3 linked regions of the Homo sapiens genome follow. The protein of the gene in region 2 interacts with the protein of the main gene of each other region in a pairwise test. Each region holds a gene or a part of one and is shown on either strand. Other genes may lie near its edges.

Region 1 (7,034 bases), on a different chromosome or scaffold from region 2:
GGGAAAGGGGCCTGAACCCCACTCCACCCCAGGACTTGGCTCCCTACAATCTGCCCACTCCCAGCCCCCACGCCACCAGGCTGGCCCTCAAAGAACATCTGAGTTCACGGAAGCAGGATGGAAAACTCAGGATTTATTCAGAGGTTTCTACCCACTAGGTTCTATGTGCCCAACACAGAGCTCAGAACAAAAATAACACCAGCTATGGTGATGAGACTGGCTATGGGACTCATCTGGGGATCATGAGCAAACAGACCCAGTTCCTGCCCCCACGGAGCTCACAGTCCCGAGGGGACAGGCACTCCCTTGGGCTCACTCATCAGGCTGCATCTGGGCTGTGTCCACTGTCTGTCTGTCCCCCTGGAGGGCAGAGCAGATGCTGTCTGGACAGCATCCAGGACAGCGTCTGTGCCTCCTGGACAGAGATCCTCAGCTCAGCACTGCTGACATTTGGGCCCCACAAGCAGCCTCTGCCTTAGGGGCTGCCCTGAGCACGGGAGGAGGCTCAGCAGCATCCCTGGCCTCTGCCCACCACATGCCCACAGCATACACCCCACGCTGCGACCAGCAAAAGAATCTGCAAACGTTGCCAAATGTCCCCTGGTGCGACATCCACCCTCCTCTGGAATAGCTGATTTTAGTAATTCCTAGTAGGTAACAGTATCCAGAAAATGTCAGTTGGATGCATTCTTATTTAATCTAGTGCATGCGTGCACACACGCACACACACACACACACACTCTCAAATGCACTCACACATTCCCTCACACTGACACACTTGCAAACTTTCATTCTCACACTCAGACATTCTCACATTCACACACTTATACTCACACATACATACATTCTCACAAACACACTCATTCTCACATACTCACACTTTCTTACACACTGATACATTCTCACTTTCATGGACTCTCACATCCACAGTCATTTATACTCACACGCACTCACACGCACACGTGCACTCCCCACCACCTTCATTCACGGAGGAGGGGGCTGGGCCCAAGCGGCTGCCAGCTGTCCTGAGCTCACCCTGCTGGCTGCAGCACAGGGGCTGGAGTGGAGTCAGATCCAATGTTCACACTCTTCCTTCACTCCACTCTCCCCAAAACACTTTTTCTGGGATTCAAAGTCACCACCTGAGAATCATGGAAGGACCCAGTTCTGGCAGAAGCTGCTGTCTTCTGGTGTCTGTGATCTCCTTCTGCCAGCAGGAAATGGCAGGTGATACGTGACCTGGTTTGGCGGCTCGAGCTGGTGCTTCCACTCCTGCTCCCTCCTCCCGGGCACCTGAGGCCCTCACGGCTTAGCAAGTGTGGCAGGTGGAGCCTGTCCCTGGGCTTGAGGTCCTTGCTGGACTCCAGCTCCTGCCCTCCCTCTGCCTCATGCAAAGTCCTAATCACAGAATGTTGGGACCCACTAGAAAGCATCAAAGAGGTCCTCCAGCAGGTGGGGTGGCAAGGCAGGGCCACACACAGCATGGCGGGGGAACCAGGGCTGACTCCTAGCCCACCAGCCCCACCTTTGGAGTGGCTTGGGACTGACAAACCGTGTCTCCATCTCCAAGGCCATCTTTGCTCCCCAAGAAGCACAGAAGAAACCCCTCCAGCAGGTCTCCTTCAGCTAAAACCCAGCTTAGCACCAAAAACAGGGCTCCAGGTCACAGCACCAGCTGCCAGCCTGTATCTTCACTTCTTTTCCCATCCACCTGCCTGGGAGGAATTCCGAGAAGACCAATGCCAGAGAAGCGAAAGGTAGCCAGGAGCTGGGGGAAGGCTTGCAGGCCATGGTGTCACCATTTATTAGCTCTGTGATCCTGCATAATTTATCGAATCTCTTTTTAAAAATGTATTATTCATCTTGTTTTTTAGAGAGACAGGGTCTTGCTATGTTGCCCAGACTGGTCTCAAACTCCTGGGTTCAAGTGATCCTCCTACTCCGGCCTCCTGAGTAGCTGAGATTACAGGCATATGCCACCATGCCTGGCTATCTAACCTCTTTGCCTCAGTTTGCTTGTCTGTCAATGGGCATGCTAACTCCTGCTCCCAATGATCAGCAGTGGGGCTTAAATTCAAGAATGGCATGGAGAATTAAGCAAACAGTTGCTTAATTCATCAACATACTTTCCTTTCAGGGTTGCCTTGGAGATGCCAGGACATCTGTGAGGATGTGGCCTGGGTTTCAGTCCTAGAGTCCCAGCGAGGAGAGGGACACATGGAAAATGCTCAGCAAATGCCACCAAGGTTTCTGATTATCAGGCCCAGTGCGTCACCACTGGGGCCCTTCTCTCCACCAGCACTGTCTGTCAATGAGTAATGAGGGCCCAAGAGGGGCTACACAAATACCCTTCCAGTCCAGCAGACCCAGGAGAGTCAGAGGAGAGCTGGATCACAGGTGCCAGGCAAAGCCAAGGCCAGGATCTGCCCGAGGAAGAAAAGAACGTGACCCGTGACCCTGGGACCTGGGAGGGCAGTGGGCAGAGGCATCTTCAGTAATCCGACACCACTTGAGAACTGTTCAACAGCCCCTGGGGGACTGAGGGGGACACACAGAGCCTGTGATTCCCAAAAACCTCAGTGGGGCAGCAGGAACGCTGGCCTAGGAATCAGGGCATGGGGACCCTGCCACTTTCCTATTCCATGACTCTGAGCAAGTCACTTCCTCTCTGGGCCTTGGTTTCTCCATCTGTAAAGTAGGCACAGTGTACGTCTATGGAGATCACGCTGTCCACAACAAACTTACAGGCAAATGGAAACCCAGGCAGGAAGGTGCTTCACCAAGACAAAAGGGCCACAGGGTCTTACCAAGGCCCTGCCAGGCTCAGCTCTGGCCAGATTAGCCCCGCACCTTGGACCAAGGCCCCCACTTCTGCCAGCCTCAGACTCCTGTCTGTTAAGACTAGTGCCTTGCTCCAGCTCTGCCACCCACCTGCACACCCTCTTGAGCAAACTCTCCTGGGCCCCGCCACAACTCCCACAGGGTGAGGCTGAAGGGGTATCCAGCAGAGAAACATCCATGATCTGTTCTAGAAGTTCCAGGTTCCGCCCACCAGGAAGAGCAGCCACAGGAAGGCAACAATGTAACCCTACACAGACACACCACAAAAACAGCACCAGGAACAGTATCTGTGGCACTAACTGGACTCTAAACCCGGTACTTCCTTTAAGCCTCACAGAAACCCTAGGAGGGAGGTGCCAGCATGTCACCATTTAACAGACGGGGAAACTGAGGCATCAAGAGGTTAAGATGTGTGCCCCAAGTCAGCAAGCATCAAGCTGGCTGCTTTAAGGTTAAAGCAACCTTAAAGGGAATGTTGACAATGATCTCACATTGCCCTAAATATATCCACAGTCCTCACCACCACCCGTGGCCCAGATACAACGTTGTAAGGTGGGCTGCACGTGACCATGAGGCTTTCAGCGTGTGGAGGTCAGCTGGGACAGTCACATGCCTCTCCTCCACCCTGCAGTCACCACTGAGCCATCATGAGCAGGCTTGAGCTTTTGGCAAAACCAGCATCTTGAACTTTTCTCCCTTCACAACACCCAGAAGGTTCTCTGTTTTCAGCTCCCCCATAGTACCTTCCTAAGACGGCCAACTCAATGCTTTGGAAAAGCATTCACTCAGCACACTGTTTCACTTGCTCCTCAAGGAGGTTGCCCCGGGAGAGGCTGGGTATTATACCCAGTTCACAAATGGGTAACCTGAGGCTCAAAAACAAACACAAAGGCCCACTTGACTTCCAAAGGCCACATGTCTAGATTCCTCCCTACTGAGGGAAAGGTGAAAAACTCACTGGTTTGTTGTGGGTGCAGGTGTGGCACTCATTCCCTCGGGGGAGGGCGGACAACAGTCCCCTGGAGGCCTTCAGTGAAGCAGATAAAGGGAGAGCAGGCGGGAATTGCTGACAAGGGTAGCATCGATTGTCACCAACAGCAACTGGCCCAGATTCCACCCTCTGTAACATGCCTGGTTTTAAGGCCACATGAAAGCCAGTGTTCTCTCCAGCACATTGTGCTCTTTATAGAACAGATTTTTAAAAGGAGGGAAAAAATCAACATGTGCTGTGGCTGTTTGCTGTAGCAACTTCCCCAGAAAATTGCCGAGAACAGCACCATTTCTGCCTGAACCTCAAGGAAAACCACCTTGAGATAGGCCCTGGATAGCCCTGCCTTACTGTGGATACAATCCTTTGTCATTTCTTTGCCCAAAGAGATTTTGAAGTCAAGCTACAAAGCAGTTCATGGGCTCTCTTGGTGTTTTCTGGCCCTTCTGAAACTCAAGGCCCTGGGGAGGGTGAGGAAGTTGGCAGTCTTCACGAACTGTCTTTCTTAACTAATCAACTCAGCAAACAATATGGGTGGATTCACTGGACCTTCAAGAAAGTTCCCTAGTTTAGAGGTTAGGGAACTGTATCAGAGCAATCAGAATCAAGGAAACAGTACAAATGTCAGAGAACAAAACCACAGTAGGAACTCCTCGAGGGCCCCTGTACTTTGCAGTGGAGCCTGAAACCCAGGAGGCATCAGTGATGTTTGATATTCAAGGAATGAAAAAGGGATCACTAAGAAGGTGAACCCCACTGTCTCCCTCTCAAACAAGCCAAAGCCGCATTCACTCCCTGGGTGTGGGTCCAGAGGGGCTGGAGCTGAAACTGAACTGCTGTGTGTTCAACTTGAGCACAGCACCAGGGAGGTCAGCAAGAGTGTCCCAAACACAACAGCAGGAAGAGGGAGGTGTCAGGAATCTCGTCAGGGCCCACCTCTTTTCTGCAATACAACCGAGATCTTCCTGGAGATTCTCAGTGGAGTTTTGGCAGCACGAGTAATTTGTTTGGCAGACAGAAGACGACCGTCTGAGGGGACGAGGTGAATAACTGGAAGTCCAAAGGAGGACACTGGTCTCCTTAGAGGATTATTTTGTGAAATTGCAAGACAGGCATGAGCTGCGCTGGATGGTCTGAGATAATTTGTGGAAATCACACAAACGGAGCCAGTGTTAGCAGAGGACGAGGAAATGGCTTCCTCATACAGAACCCTTTGTCCCGAGATGGGATGCTAGCCACGCTAACAGGATCCTTCCCCAGAATGGTCTTGCAGTTTCCACCCTCCGGAATGGGCCTCCGATCTTGTCTATGCAAGATGGTCCAAGTTACTTCCTTAATCAGTGGAGATGTCCTTTCCACCACCACTAACACAACACCTACTAAGGACAGGCTCTCAGGTTTCATGGGAGACATGGACAGGTCCCAGGAAGGACCCAACCCAGCCTCCCCTCCAGCAGAGGACAGCCAAGGAGGCCTTTCTGGAGAAAGGAGGAGAGTTCCATGATTAAAAAGGAGGAAGGAGAGATGGTAAGCATTCCCAGCTGAGAGAGGCCATAGACCCACCTCTTAAATGGCCCTCTCACATCCATATTTGAAGAGGGTTACTTGGAATCTTCTTAGGTTCCGTGGGGGTGGGGCAGAGGGTGAAGGCAGGAGAACAAGGTGGAGACCTGGGCCCCCACCCACCTCTCTTCAAACAGAACTCTATGCAGATTTAAAATGTATAGCTGCAGAAAGTCTCCCCACAGATTTAAAGAAAGGAAAGATTAAACTGCTGGGGAGGGCACTCAAGGCCCCCAGACTGTTAAGGAGCCTCACTTTCTACCAGCTCAGTTGCAAGAAAACCCGCTGGACTCAAAAGGTCAGAGATGGAGCCCAGGCAGGTAGGGCATAGGCAGGTCTGCAAACAATGTTAGGTGGGAAAGTCAAAGATCTGGGTCAAAGAGACCTGCTTATGGCCCCGATTGTGTAATCCATTCCCATTCTGTAGTGCTGGGGCTTACGCCCCACCCGAGGGAGCCCAGGTTTCTTTTCACATGGCCCCCACCCCGAGAACACGGCTCCAGGTTGGCACCTACTCATGGCCCTCTACCTCTGCAGCCGCCTTCCTGTGGGGCCTCAGTGTCCCCAGCCCTTCTGCCTACCTGCCTGGGCTAAGTTCTCAGCCAAGACCGCTATCTAGCCTGCCTCTATCTCCAAGTTGAAAGATAAAAAGCAAGTGGACACGCGGTACTTCCATCACACAGCCATCAAGGGAGGCAGGAACAACAGCCTGGGGTGGATCCAGGAAACAAGCTCCTTCTCAAAAGGTGGGCCCAGAGGGTGTGGGTGGCCTCCAAGCGCAATGTTGGAGGGTGGAAAGGGCTCAGGAGGCTCACCTTGGGCAGAACCCCACTCACTGGACTCTGGACAGAAGAGTCACCAGCCTGAGCCTCAATTTTCTGACCTGAGAGGTGGAAAGAATGTCTTCTACCTCAGTTAGCTGATGTGATGCATTGAACCTCCAAGGCACTATAGCAAACAAGAGCTATTTACTGAGCACTCACTAATTCCCTGGCACTGTGGACACAGGGTGGCCTGAAGGTACAGCGGCATGTATGACTACACCTTCCTTCTTCTCTCCCCTGTCATTCCAGAGCAGAGGTTCTCAACTCTGTCTGCCTGCAGGATACCCCATTCCCAACCCAGCCAAAGGAGCTTTGAAACAACAGCATATCCCCTGATGGAGAGAGAATCGCAGGAGACCGGGCCTGGAAATGTGCATTTCAGACAAGATTTTCATGACACTATTATGCAACCTACATAAGCTTAGCAAAAAGCAATACCTAGGTCAAGCATTTGCAGGCACTTTCACAGCCTTGGGTAGGTTTAGGACAAAGGGTCCCAGACTCTGCCTGCCAAGAAGATGCCTTGAGAATGTCTTCTGCGGGTGCTACTGACGGCAAACACCTACACGCTGTTTTCCACATGCTCAGTGCTGTTCTCAGGTTACACAGATTAATATTTACACATTCTGATGGCATCATGTCTGTTACTCTCATTTTACAGAAAAGCAAACTGAGGCATGGAGCTCCTGACTGCCTTTTCATTTGAGCCTGATTTCTTCAGGCGCCCCAACATGTTGTCATGGAAAAAAAACAAAGGCTCTGAAGTCCAACTGTCCGGGTTCAAAGTCTGGCTCTCCCACCTGAGCCATATGGCAACA
Region 2 (7,034 bases):
AGTTATGATCTATACAGTTGCTGCAAACACTGAATTAGCAAATATGGGACCCTTGCAAACCTCTGTTCACAACTAATCAGTGTATAACCTTTTTTATGTGTGTTTCTGCTTAAAGACAACTTTAAAAAATATTGTAGAATCATTAACATTGAACTCATAGCCAACAACACTGTAACTCATGCGTGAATGAAACTTATTCTCTCCATAAGGTGTATGACAGCCTTCTTTGCTTAGGAACACTAGACAGCACTTCAGCTCTATGCTTGGGTGCCATTTTAAACAACACAATCACCAACAAAAAGCACAAAACTGTGAAAAACGTGGCACTAAACAGTCTGCAAACAAGACACTGGTTTATAGTAGGAGCTCAAATACGGCAGAGCCCTGTTCTACCTCAGCTGGGAACAGAGTTGCATGTTGGGCAACTGCAATTTTTTGCCACCGGTCATATCCACGAATGACTCTGAAAGCACAAGTGTTGATTATGGGGTTACAAGTAAATTTTAGCCTGTGGGTCAGTTCACACATATGTAATCCATAAATAATGAAGATTGACTGTAACTAACAAAAAATTAGAAAACAGTGTTAAAAGTTTCCCTAATAGAATCAAGCAAAAAAGGCATAGGGTACTTTGGCTGTTAGGAAGCTTAACAGAAGTGAAGTAAAAAACTTATCTTGAAGTCGAATTTTGTTGGAAAATTGTGTGCATTTTTTGTTGTTGTTTTAATAAAGCTCTCTGAAATGGACAGGATCTTAAGACAATTTTACTCTTTTCAAGTTTGAGCTACTAAGAGCCTCAGGCTTAAGTTTGGGCATTTTGGAGAGTTAGGTTATATTTTAACAGAAACCTAAACCTGTTACAGAATGCTTAGTTGGAGTTATGTATTCTTATTGAAGTCAAATTTTATGAGCAGTTGAATTGAAAACATTGAGGGTCTTGAATTATTCAATGTTAACAGTAAATCACAAGTCTATTCTTAAAATTGATTTAGCCTATCTCTTCTGTTGAAATAGGTTCCTGATATGGCAGGCTATCCTCACATCCGTTACATTTCATCAGGATTGGATGGAACATCATTCAGAGGTCCTTTCAGGGGCAATTTTGAGGTATGTAATAAAATAAATGAATATGTTTGTCACAGTATCTTTAATGCAGATTGAGTATATATATACTACTATACACAATTGTGTAGGACTGCTACAGTGGCTGGGAATCACATGTGATTTTCTGATGTTGCTTCTGGGAGTTACAGAAATATTTGTAAGTATTATTAATCTTAGGGTCAAAAGTTACCGAAATATTTAAAGATGAGTAAATGAAAATATCTAATATAGAAGAATATAAAAATGTATTAAATCAATATAAATGTCAGATATATAACTATACCATTAAATGTGGTGGGGAACGGAATGTTTTTGACTCAGCTAAATTTTTAGAGAAATCGGTAGAGAAAAAGAAACTTAAGTAATTCCCTTTGTAGCTAAATGTCTTGTTTGAATTTTCAGGAAGAACAAATCATTCGAATGGGATTTAAAGTTTTGTTGTGGTTTGTTTTTTTGTTTGTTTGTTTGTTTGTTTGTTGTTGTTGTTTTTTTAGATGGAGTCTTGCTCTGTCACCCAGACTGGAGTGCAGTTGCACAATCTCAGCTCACTGCAACCTGCGCCTCCTGGGTTCAAGCAATTCTCCTGCCTCGGCTTCCTGAGTAGCTGGGATTACAGGTGCCCGCCACCACGCCCGGCTAATTTTTGTATTTTTAGTAGAGATAGTGTTTTGCCATGTTGGCCAGGCTGCTCTTGAACTCCTGACCTCAAGTGATCCACCCACCTTGGCCTCCCAAAGTACTGGGATTACAGGCGCAAGCCACCGCACCCGGCCCCCGTTGTGTTTTTTTTATGTCAGTTTGGAAGTTGGAGTCATTGTGACTTAGAACTATTGTTTGATTTGGTTCCTTAATTTACTAGAATTATTTCATCTTCTCCATACATACATACATACTGACTTACATAGTACCATGTGATAATATTGTTGTAATTTATAAAGATAACTTTTGCTGTACCATTTCAGTTGGCTGAGGAAAACATGATAAACAACCATTTGCCTTACTGTCTATGAGAAACATTAAGTCAGGCATGGTGGCTCACACCTGTAATCTCAGCAGTTTAGGAGGCCGAGGTGGGAGGATCACTTGAGGCCAGGAGTTTGAGACCAGCCTGGGCAACATATAAACTGTTTTATATATATACTTATATATAAGTAACCACTTGTCATGTGTAAGTTTTTTTGAACACTGTATTTATATTGCAAGTTTCTAAGTATGGAGGTTTATTTCTTATACAATGTTGACAGTTCTGTTCAAGGAATAATCATCTTGGCTTTTACCAGTCATTATATTCTTCACTTTCAGGAACTGATTCATTTGGAAGAAAGATTAGGCAATGTCAATCGTGGAGCATCCCAGGGGACAATTGAAAGATGTACATATCCACATAAATACAAAAAGGTAAGAATTTATTCTATGAAACTTCTGGAGTGTTACTGAAAGGCATAAATGTAATATATACCTTTTTTGAATTTGTAGACTCTAGCAATGACATTTTTATTGAAGTAATGCATACATATTGTTTAAAAATTTTGGAAAGTATAAAAAATATATACTTTGCAGTTTTTTACTCTGCAGACCCTAGTCCTTCTTCCCAGAAGTGAAATCATAGTTAAGGATTTAGATATTCTTCTAGATATTTTTTAGCATTTTCTAATAATGTGCATATGTATATATATTTTTGTCTACTTTAAAAAAAACACAAAAGGAGATGATTACCACATAGTTTGCAGATTGCCTTTCATGCCAATTAGCTCCCACAGATCACCCTTATTATTTTTAATAGCTTATGCAGAATTCCATCATATGGCAGTACTGTAATTTTTTTAACTAGCAATTTATTTTGACGGACATTTTATTGATGTATGTTTCTTCTACTCTACCCTCAGTTGCTTGTATAGCATTATACAGTTATGGGGTAGACATGTTAAATACGTGTCTTAAACCATGCTCAATACCAACGGTCCCCAACCTTTTTGACACCAGGGACCAGTTTTCATGGAAGACAATTTTTCATGGATAGGTGGCAGAGGGGATAGTTTCAGAATGAAACTATTCCACCTCAGATTATCAGGCATTAGTTAGATTCTCTTAAGGAGCATGCAACCTAGATCCCTCACATGCACAGTTTACAATAGGGTTCACGCTTCTATGAGAATCTATCGCTGCTGCTGATCTGACAGGAGGAAGAGCTCCAGCAGTGATGCTCGCTCACCTGCCACTCACCTCCTGCTGTGCAGCCAGGTACTGGTTTGCAGCCCAGGGGTTGGAGACTCCTTTATACTATGTAAAGAATAATCATAAAGTGTGAAAATTACTATTCTCTGTATTTTTCATCTATTTTCAAAGAGTATTGAGGTATTACCAGTACATTCAAGTTTTCAACTGTCCAAGTTAAATACTGTAACTAATGTTAATTTAAATGGATGTTACTTGAAACATTCACTAATAAAAAAAACTTATTTATGCTCATGGTAGGATAAAAATAGTTTATATTGTTTATCATTCTCATTGTGGATTAAAAGTAATAGCTTTTAAGTGAATGAATTTCTGTTAAATTTGATTTTGCTTTTGATCCCAATTATTAGAGGGTCTTAAAAATATACTTAATTGATGATAGTCACTTAATTCATCCATTTATTTATGACAGTCTTACCTGGGAAAAAAGTGCGGGTGAATATGTGGTTTTGTTTTGTTTTGTTTTTCAAATAAACACAGACTTTACTCAGTTGTTCAATAATGTCATCTCTACTAATAAGGTAACAACTGATTGGTTCTCACAGAGGAAACTGCACTGCAAACAAGATGGGGAAGAAGGGACTGAGGAAGACACAGAGGAAAAATGTACTATCTGTTTGTCTATTTTAGAGGAAGGTGAAGATGTGAGGTAACTAGATATTAATTATCTAAAATCCATTGTCAAAACTGTACATGGGATTTTATTTGAAAAGTAAATTACACCGGGCATGATGGCTCACACGTGTAATTCCAGCACTTTTTGAGGCCAAGGCCAGAGGCTCTCTTGAGGCCAGGAGTTTGAGGCCAACCTGGGCAACATAACAAGACTCTGTTTCTACAAAAAAGAAAAATAGTACAATTATTTGCATGTGATGGTGTGCACCTGCAGTGCCAGCTACTCAGGAGACTAAGGCAGGAGGATGGCTCAAGCCCAGGAGTTTGAGACTGCAGTGAGCTTTGAGCACACCACACTGCACTCCAGCCTGGGCAATAGAGTGAGACCCTGTCTCTGAAAAAAAAGAGTAAAAGTAAACTGGAAACCAAATAAAGATTACTTTTGGCATATACTGTTACCAATTTCTGGCACGTAGAACTGGCTTCATCTGGCGAGTGAAACAATAAAAGATTAAAGTATCTATGTTACCAACATGGGAGTGGGAAATATACTGCCTATTGTAGGGCCACACAAGGTTTGGCCAGGGAAATTTCGTAGTCAAAATTGTCTTCTGTAAATCTTGCAGAAATGAGAATTTGAGAGGCTTTGGAGGTCCTAGAAAGTTATAATGTGTTCTTCAAAACTTAAACAGGGATCCAGATTAGTCCTATGCAGTCTGTTTTACAGCATCTTTTTTTTTTTTTTTTTTTTTTTTCCTTTTCTGGGAGATGGTCTCCTTCTGTTGCCCAGGCTCAGGGCAGCAGTCTCAGCTCACTGCAACCTCCACCTCCTGGGCTGAAGCGATCCACCTACCTCAGCCTCCCAAAATGCTGGGATTACAGGCGTAAGCCACTGCACTCGGCTATAGCATCTTTTATAAACTGGTTTTGTCATAAAATTTCCTCTAAACTAGTAGGACTATTCCCTTCTTGCACCTTTGTTGTTTAGAAAATGTTAATATGTTAACCCTATATTAATTTTAGGCATTTTCTTTGTATAATCACTTAAGTAATTGTTTTCTTCCTGTTCTTTTTTTTAATGTTAACATAATGCCATATGAAACAGGTTCTATATCATATATAACAGAACCTTGTAGTAATATTATTGCCCTAATTTATAAGGATAACTTTGTCGTACCTCTTCAGTTGGCTGAGAAAAAAATTGTCTACCATACGACAAATAAGGTTTTTTGCACACTGTATTTCTAATGAAGGTTTATAAATTTGGAACTTAATTGCTTTTACAGTATTGACAATACTGTTCAAGGAATAATTGGGATACTTTTTAAGGCTATTATTTTAACAAGATATTAGGAAGTCTGAAAAGTGTATAAAAACTCTTAACAGTTGCTAGAAGTAGAAATGGACACGAGTCAGTAACTTTTATTCCACTGTTAACACTCAGATTTAATGTTACCCTATCTTGCTTGGGGGCTTTATTTCTCAATTTCTAATTGGTAATTTGGCATGATGTAAACAAACAAATCATTACATCTCCTTTTAACTTACCTGTTAAACAGTAGCACAATATTAAGTGTATATAACAATTATTCCGTGAAAAAAGTATTACTCACCTTTAATCAGTTATGTACTTAAGTTTAATGTGTAAAGATATTCTTGATAGAAAATAACATTGCACAATAAGACATTTTTTAGTGAGGAAAGTGTAGTTACTATATATTTGCCACATGAATTGTAATGTTTTTGAGAGAGAATTAAATGATGTAATAAATATATATTTGAGATAATATGTATTTTTAAAGGGCATTACAAATACAGTGATGATTTGATTTTTAAAAATATATTTGCAATATTATGTGACAGGTAACATACTGCTAACTCCAGGGCATTGGCAGCTCCTGTACCAAAACAAAACTGGAATAATTGGCAGTGTAATTTGTGTTCTTACAGTTTTTAAGATTTTATATAATTTGGTCCTGTAGCTTTGAAAGTTAATTATCTTGATCATTTATATATTATATTGCCCAGAGTGCTAATTTAATCGATGTGTTTTTTATAGAAGAGGAAGATGCTTAGTACCTTCAAAACATTATTGAATTATTACATATATAATTTGTTAACTACGTACAATTATCATAAAATTAATTTTTGCTTTTTGTTTTCTTGCCAATAATAGACGTCTTCCATGTATGCACCTTTTCCACCAAGTGTGTGTTGACCAATGGTTGATTACCAATAAGAAGTGCCCCATATGCAGAGTGGACATTGAGGCCCAGCTGCCAAGTGAAAGTTGACACCATGTTTCAGAACTCTTGCCCTCCCTCTCATTCCCATCCTTCCTGGTACTGCAGTCAACCAAAGATGGCATGACTTACCTGCGCAGATTTGGAAGCATTGAACTTAGAGTGCTGGCTCTGCTATATGGTACAACTAATGCTAGACCTACAGTTTATGTATACAGTTGATTTTGATGTATTTATAAAAGCTTTTTTTTCTAGATTTGACATTTTTCTGTATCATTTTACTGTATTTTTGCATGGTTCCTTGTATTGCATTTCTTTGCACATATTATGGGCTTGTGACCCTAAACTTGCAGGCAAGGTTAGCTGCTTTAGTAAGTAGAATTTTGTGGTCTTTTTGTTTTTTACATAGTACCAAGCCTTGATAATTATGAATTTTTTATCCATTACTAACCTTTAATTTAATCAATCATGTACTTTAGTTTAATGTATAAAGATCCTCTAGAAAATGATAATATTGTGTATTAAGACATTCCTTAATTAGGACAAAATGGCTGCTGTATATTTACTATATGGAGTTCTGAGTTAAATACCATCCTTAATACTGGGAACAGAATACAACCCATATAAATCAGATGCAGGTGGTAGTCACATCACCAGAGTGATCAGTATAAATTTTCTTGGTGTATCCTTTTCCTTTCAACACAGTGCAGATAAGAGTTGAATATTGATATCATACATTTAGACTGCTGTTCTGATTGCATTTATCTTTTTCCTACATCATTTAGAATTTTATTTCCCTGATTCAGTTTTTGCTGCTGTGAAACAGCTCTGATGAAC
Region 3 (4,179 bases), on a different chromosome or scaffold from region 2:
ATCTCGGCTCACTGCAAGCTCCGCCTCCTGGGTTCAAGCCATCCTCCTGCCTCAGCCTCCTGAGTAGATGGGACTACAGGCGCCCGCCACCACACCCGGCTAATGTTTTGTATTTTTAGTAGAGACGGGGTTTCACCATGTTAGCTATGATGGTCTCGATCTCCTGACCTCGTGATCCACCCGCCTCGGCCTCCCAAAGTGCTGGGATTACAGGTGTGATGGAGTACTCTCTTTTTTAAAGTCCTGGGTAACCAAAAGGGATTTGGAGTACTCTCTTTGTCAAACACTATTCCCATGGCCTTGATTACCTCACTACTTCCTGACTGTTTTCCCAATAACCATCAGTTTCTGTAGGTCTTTAAAAAATATTTGAGCAAATGACATTACTGATAGTCCACTGATTGTAAACATACTTGCATAAAAAAGATGGGGCAGGTGTTCTGAAGAGTATCACCATGTAATACTAGCATCCTGTTAATTCACCAAAGTACTTTATAACAAAAAAAGTAATAAACCAACAAGACAGGGTCACTTCTCATTGCTGTTTTCTTTTTTCTCATGGGTCAATGAGGCTTTTTATTTTGAGCACAAAATCACTGGGGATCTTGCCTGTGGCCACCCCGGAGATGACACTGGAGGGTCACGTGGCTCCGGTGATTTGGGCCAATTACATGACTGCAAGGCTAGAGCTGCCAACAGGGCTCCAGGGAGCTTGGCTTCTGTAGAAGTTCTTTTTTTTTTTTTTTTTTTCTGGGACGGACTCTCACTCTGTCTCCAGACTGGTGTGCAGTGGCGCAATCTCGGCTCACTGCAACCTGCTTCTGTAGAAGTTCTAAGGAAGAGGTGCGAACTCCACGGCGGTGGGCAAGGGTAGCTAACTAGCAGCGGCCCCTACAAATGTTGCTCGGGGGTCTTGAGCTGCCGGAGTTGACACAAGGGGAGGGGTCTAATTAGCCACCAGGTGACTGAAGGGCTTGCCTGCCCACAGCTTACTTGGCTGGGGGGTTTCTGAAGTTCCTGCCGGCAAACTTAGCCTTGCTGCCCAGCTCCTCTTCAATTCTGAGGAGCTGGTTGTACTTGGCCAAGCGCTCAGATCAGCAAGGGGCACCAGTCTTGAGCTGCCCAGGTCACAGCCCCACCACCAGGTCAGTGATGAAGGTATTTTCAGTCTCCCCAGAATGATGAGGCACCATGACACACCAACCATTGGCCTGGGCCAGCTTGCACGCCTGAAGGGACTCAGTCACAGAGCGAATCTGGTTCACTTTGAGCAGGAGGCAGTTGCACTTCTTCTCATTCACGGCCGAGGCTGTCCTCTTTGGGTTGGTCACTCTGAGATCATCCTCCACTACCTGGATTCCTGCACTGGCCGTGAACTTCTGCCAAGCTCCCCAGTCATCCTGGTCAAAGGGATCTTCAGTAGACACCACTGGGTAGTTTTTGATGAAGGACTTGTACAGGTCAGCCAGACAGTCAGGTGAGATGTACCTGGTGGGGTCGTCGAGAAACTTGAATTCCAGGTCATACTTTCCAGACCTGAAGAACTCGGAGGCCTCTACGTCCATGCTGACGATCACCTTATCAGTGTAGCCAGCTTTCCCAATCGCAGTCTTCAGCAGCTCCAGGCCTTCTTTATTCTCCAGGATGTTGGGAGCAAACGCGCCTCCATCCCCCACACCGGTGGCATCTTTCCCATATTTCTCCTTGATGACATTCTTCAGGCTGTGGTAAACCTCCGCTCCAATGGGCATGGCTTCCCTGAAGTTTGCTGCACCGACTGGGAGGACCATGAACTCCTGCATGGCCAGCTTGGTGACAGCATGAGAACTGCCATTGATGACATTGAACACCGGGACTGGCAAGATGACTTTGGAGTTGCCAGACAAGTCGGCGATGTGGTGGTACAGGGGAACCCCCTTCTCAACAGCACTAGCTTTGCAGGCAGCGAGGGACACTCCCAGAATGGCATTTGCACCAAATTTAGATTTATTTTCTGTTCCATCCATCTCTATCATAAGTTTGTCAATCTTCTCTTGTTCTGTGACGTTCAGTTTCTTGCTAACCAGGACAGGTGCAATAGTTTTATTGATGGGCTCAACAGGCTTTGAGACACCCTTCCCCATATAGCGAGTCTTATCATTGTCCTGGAGCTCTAGGACCTCATAGATACCAGTTGAAGCACCACTGGGCACAGCAGCTCTGAAGAGACCTTCTGAGGTGAAGAGATCAACCTCAACAGTGGGATTCCCACGAGAGTCAAAGAGCTCCCTGGCATGGATCTTGAGAATAGACATGGTGAATTTCTAGCCACTGGGTCTCATTGCCTAGGAGAGAAGTGGAGGGTGCTGCAGACACTCAGGTAAGCATTCCTTGTAGCTGTTTTCTTTGAAACCGTGGGAATGGCACTGATCAGGAGAGATGTTACATATAATGCTGTGGGTATGTCTGGGGCTATCAACAGTCTCAGGACCTATTTAAATCTTTACCGTATTTCAGAGAGAGGATAATTTTATCTTCAACGTGGCATGAATCCATTCCGATTGTAGGACTTTGGCCCTTAGAGGATACTAGAAAATATGTTTTCTTAATTCCAGATTTGAATATTAAATTATAACAGATGTGCAAAAATAAACAGAGATCCACCACCGAAACAAGCTACCCCTCCACAAAACTGCCAGCTTTGGGGAAAACCAGTGTCCACTGTTCCACGTCCTTGTCCTAAACTCTTATAAAACAACAGATTCACATTCCTTCTTGACCTGTGGTTGTTTCAACATCCGGAGAGGCCAATGAAGGAAGAAGAAGAGCTCTAGAAGTGCCTGGAGGGGTCTCCACGCTCCCGCTTGGGCCACTCCTCGTCCACCCACCTGCGCAGAACCTTCTCCACGTCGGCCCTGTGGTAGAGCCTGCAGAGCTCCATCAGCTGGCCCACCGTCCTCTGACTGTTCCGGAGCAAGAACTCCAAGGTGGGGCTCTGTGGCCTCTGCTCCAGGAAGCACAATTCGTCATAGGACATCCCCCATTTGCTTGCAAAATTCCTCCAGTTTTTCACCGTTGGGTGACACGGATCCAGCTTTATCCTGATCACGTCTAGTAAGTCCTGATCATTGAGCAAGTCACTTATGGTGGGGGCCCGGAGCAAGCAGGAGGAACAAGTACAGTTTTCTTTGCAGGAGTTGTCCTTGCTGATCTCTGCAGGGAGAAACAATTTAGTCCACAGGTCAACAAGAGGCCTAACATATGCATTCATTTCTTACATCCTTTATTTTCCTGCTGAATTGTCAAAAGCATCATATGGAAGACTATTTCAGAATGCTCGTTTCTTTCTTTTTTTTTTTTTTTTTGAGATGGAGTCTCGCTCTTTCGCCCAGGCTGGAGTGCAGTGGCACTATCTCGGCTCACTGCAAGCTCCGCCTCCCAGGGGTTCACGCCATTCTCCTGCCTCAGCCTCCTGAGTAGCTGGGACTATAGGCACCCGCCACTGCACCCGGCTAATTTTTTGTGTTTTTAGTAAAGACGGGGTTTCACCGTGTTAGCCAGGATGGTCTCGATCTCCTGACCTTGTGATCCACCCGCCTCGGCCTCCCAAAGTGCTGCGATTATAGGCATGAGCCACCGTGCCTGGCCTCAGAATGCTCATTTCTAATAATGTGTTACTGTTCTTTTTTTTTTTTTTTTTTGATACAGGGTGTCACTCTGTTGCCCAGGCTGGAGTGCAGTGGCATGATCTCGGCTCACTGCAACCTCCGCCCTCCAGGCTCAAGCGATCCTCCCACCTCAGCTTCCCGAGTACCTGGGACTACAGGCACGTACCACCAAACCTGGCTAATCTTTTCTTTCTTTCTTTTTTTTTTTTTTGGTAGAGGTGGGGTTTCACCATGTTTCCCAGGCTGGTCTTGAACTCCTAGACTCAAGTGATCTGCCCACCTTGACCTCCCAAAGTGCTGGGATTACAAGCATGAGCCACCGCACCTGGCTGTGTTATTCTTTATAGCCAAAGATGAATTGCTTTGCTAGAAGGAGTAAGAATTTTTAAAGCCAGTTTCCCTTTCTTTCCAAGACTGTCTATGTCTTACAGTGTGCATTTGTGACACTGCTGGCCAGAATAAGGGCTCCAGCAAACAGAACTCTCTCCGGGGTAAAAGGGGCTGCTGTGTCTGTGAGTAACCAGCCGACACT

The links. Proteins that work in one complex are often made in the same cells at the same time.
Region 1: the proteins of RNF111 (region 2) and NDRG1 interact in binary tests that used the Homo sapiens proteins (3 or more experiments, as listed by UniProt).
Region 3: the proteins of RNF111 (region 2) and EDARADD interact in binary tests that used the Homo sapiens proteins (3 or more experiments, as listed by UniProt).

Annotation. Positions count from the first base shown.
Region 1 is NC_000008.11:133,287,225-133,294,258, forward strand, and holds part of NDRG1 (protein NDRG1), read right to left. Parts: intron 1-7,034. UniProt on the Homo sapiens protein: Stress-responsive protein involved in hormone responses, cell growth, and differentiation. Acts as a tumor suppressor in many cell types. Necessary but not sufficient for p53/TP53-mediated caspase activation and apoptosis.
Region 2 is NC_000015.10:59,088,653-59,095,686, forward strand, and holds part of RNF111 (E3 ubiquitin-protein ligase Arkadia), read left to right. Parts: intron 1-1,014; coding exon 1,015-1,107; intron 1,108-2,406; coding exon 2,407-2,502; intron 2,503-3,860; coding exon of another isoform or gene 3,861-3,884; coding exon 3,885-3,988; intron 3,989-6,130; coding exon 6,131-6,248; 3' UTR 6,249-7,034. UniProt on the Homo sapiens protein: E3 ubiquitin-protein ligase. Required for mesoderm patterning during embryonic development. Acts as an enhancer of the transcriptional responses of the SMAD2/SMAD3 effectors, which are activated downstream of BMP.
Region 3 is NC_000001.11:236,481,280-236,485,458, reverse strand, and holds the end of EDARADD (ectodysplasin-A receptor-associated adapter protein), read right to left. Parts: intron 3,193-4,179; coding exon 2,810-3,192; 3' UTR 529-2,809; downstream 1-528. UniProt on the Homo sapiens protein: Adapter protein that interacts with EDAR DEATH domain and couples the receptor to EDA signaling pathway during morphogenesis of ectodermal organs. Mediates the activation of NF-kappa-B.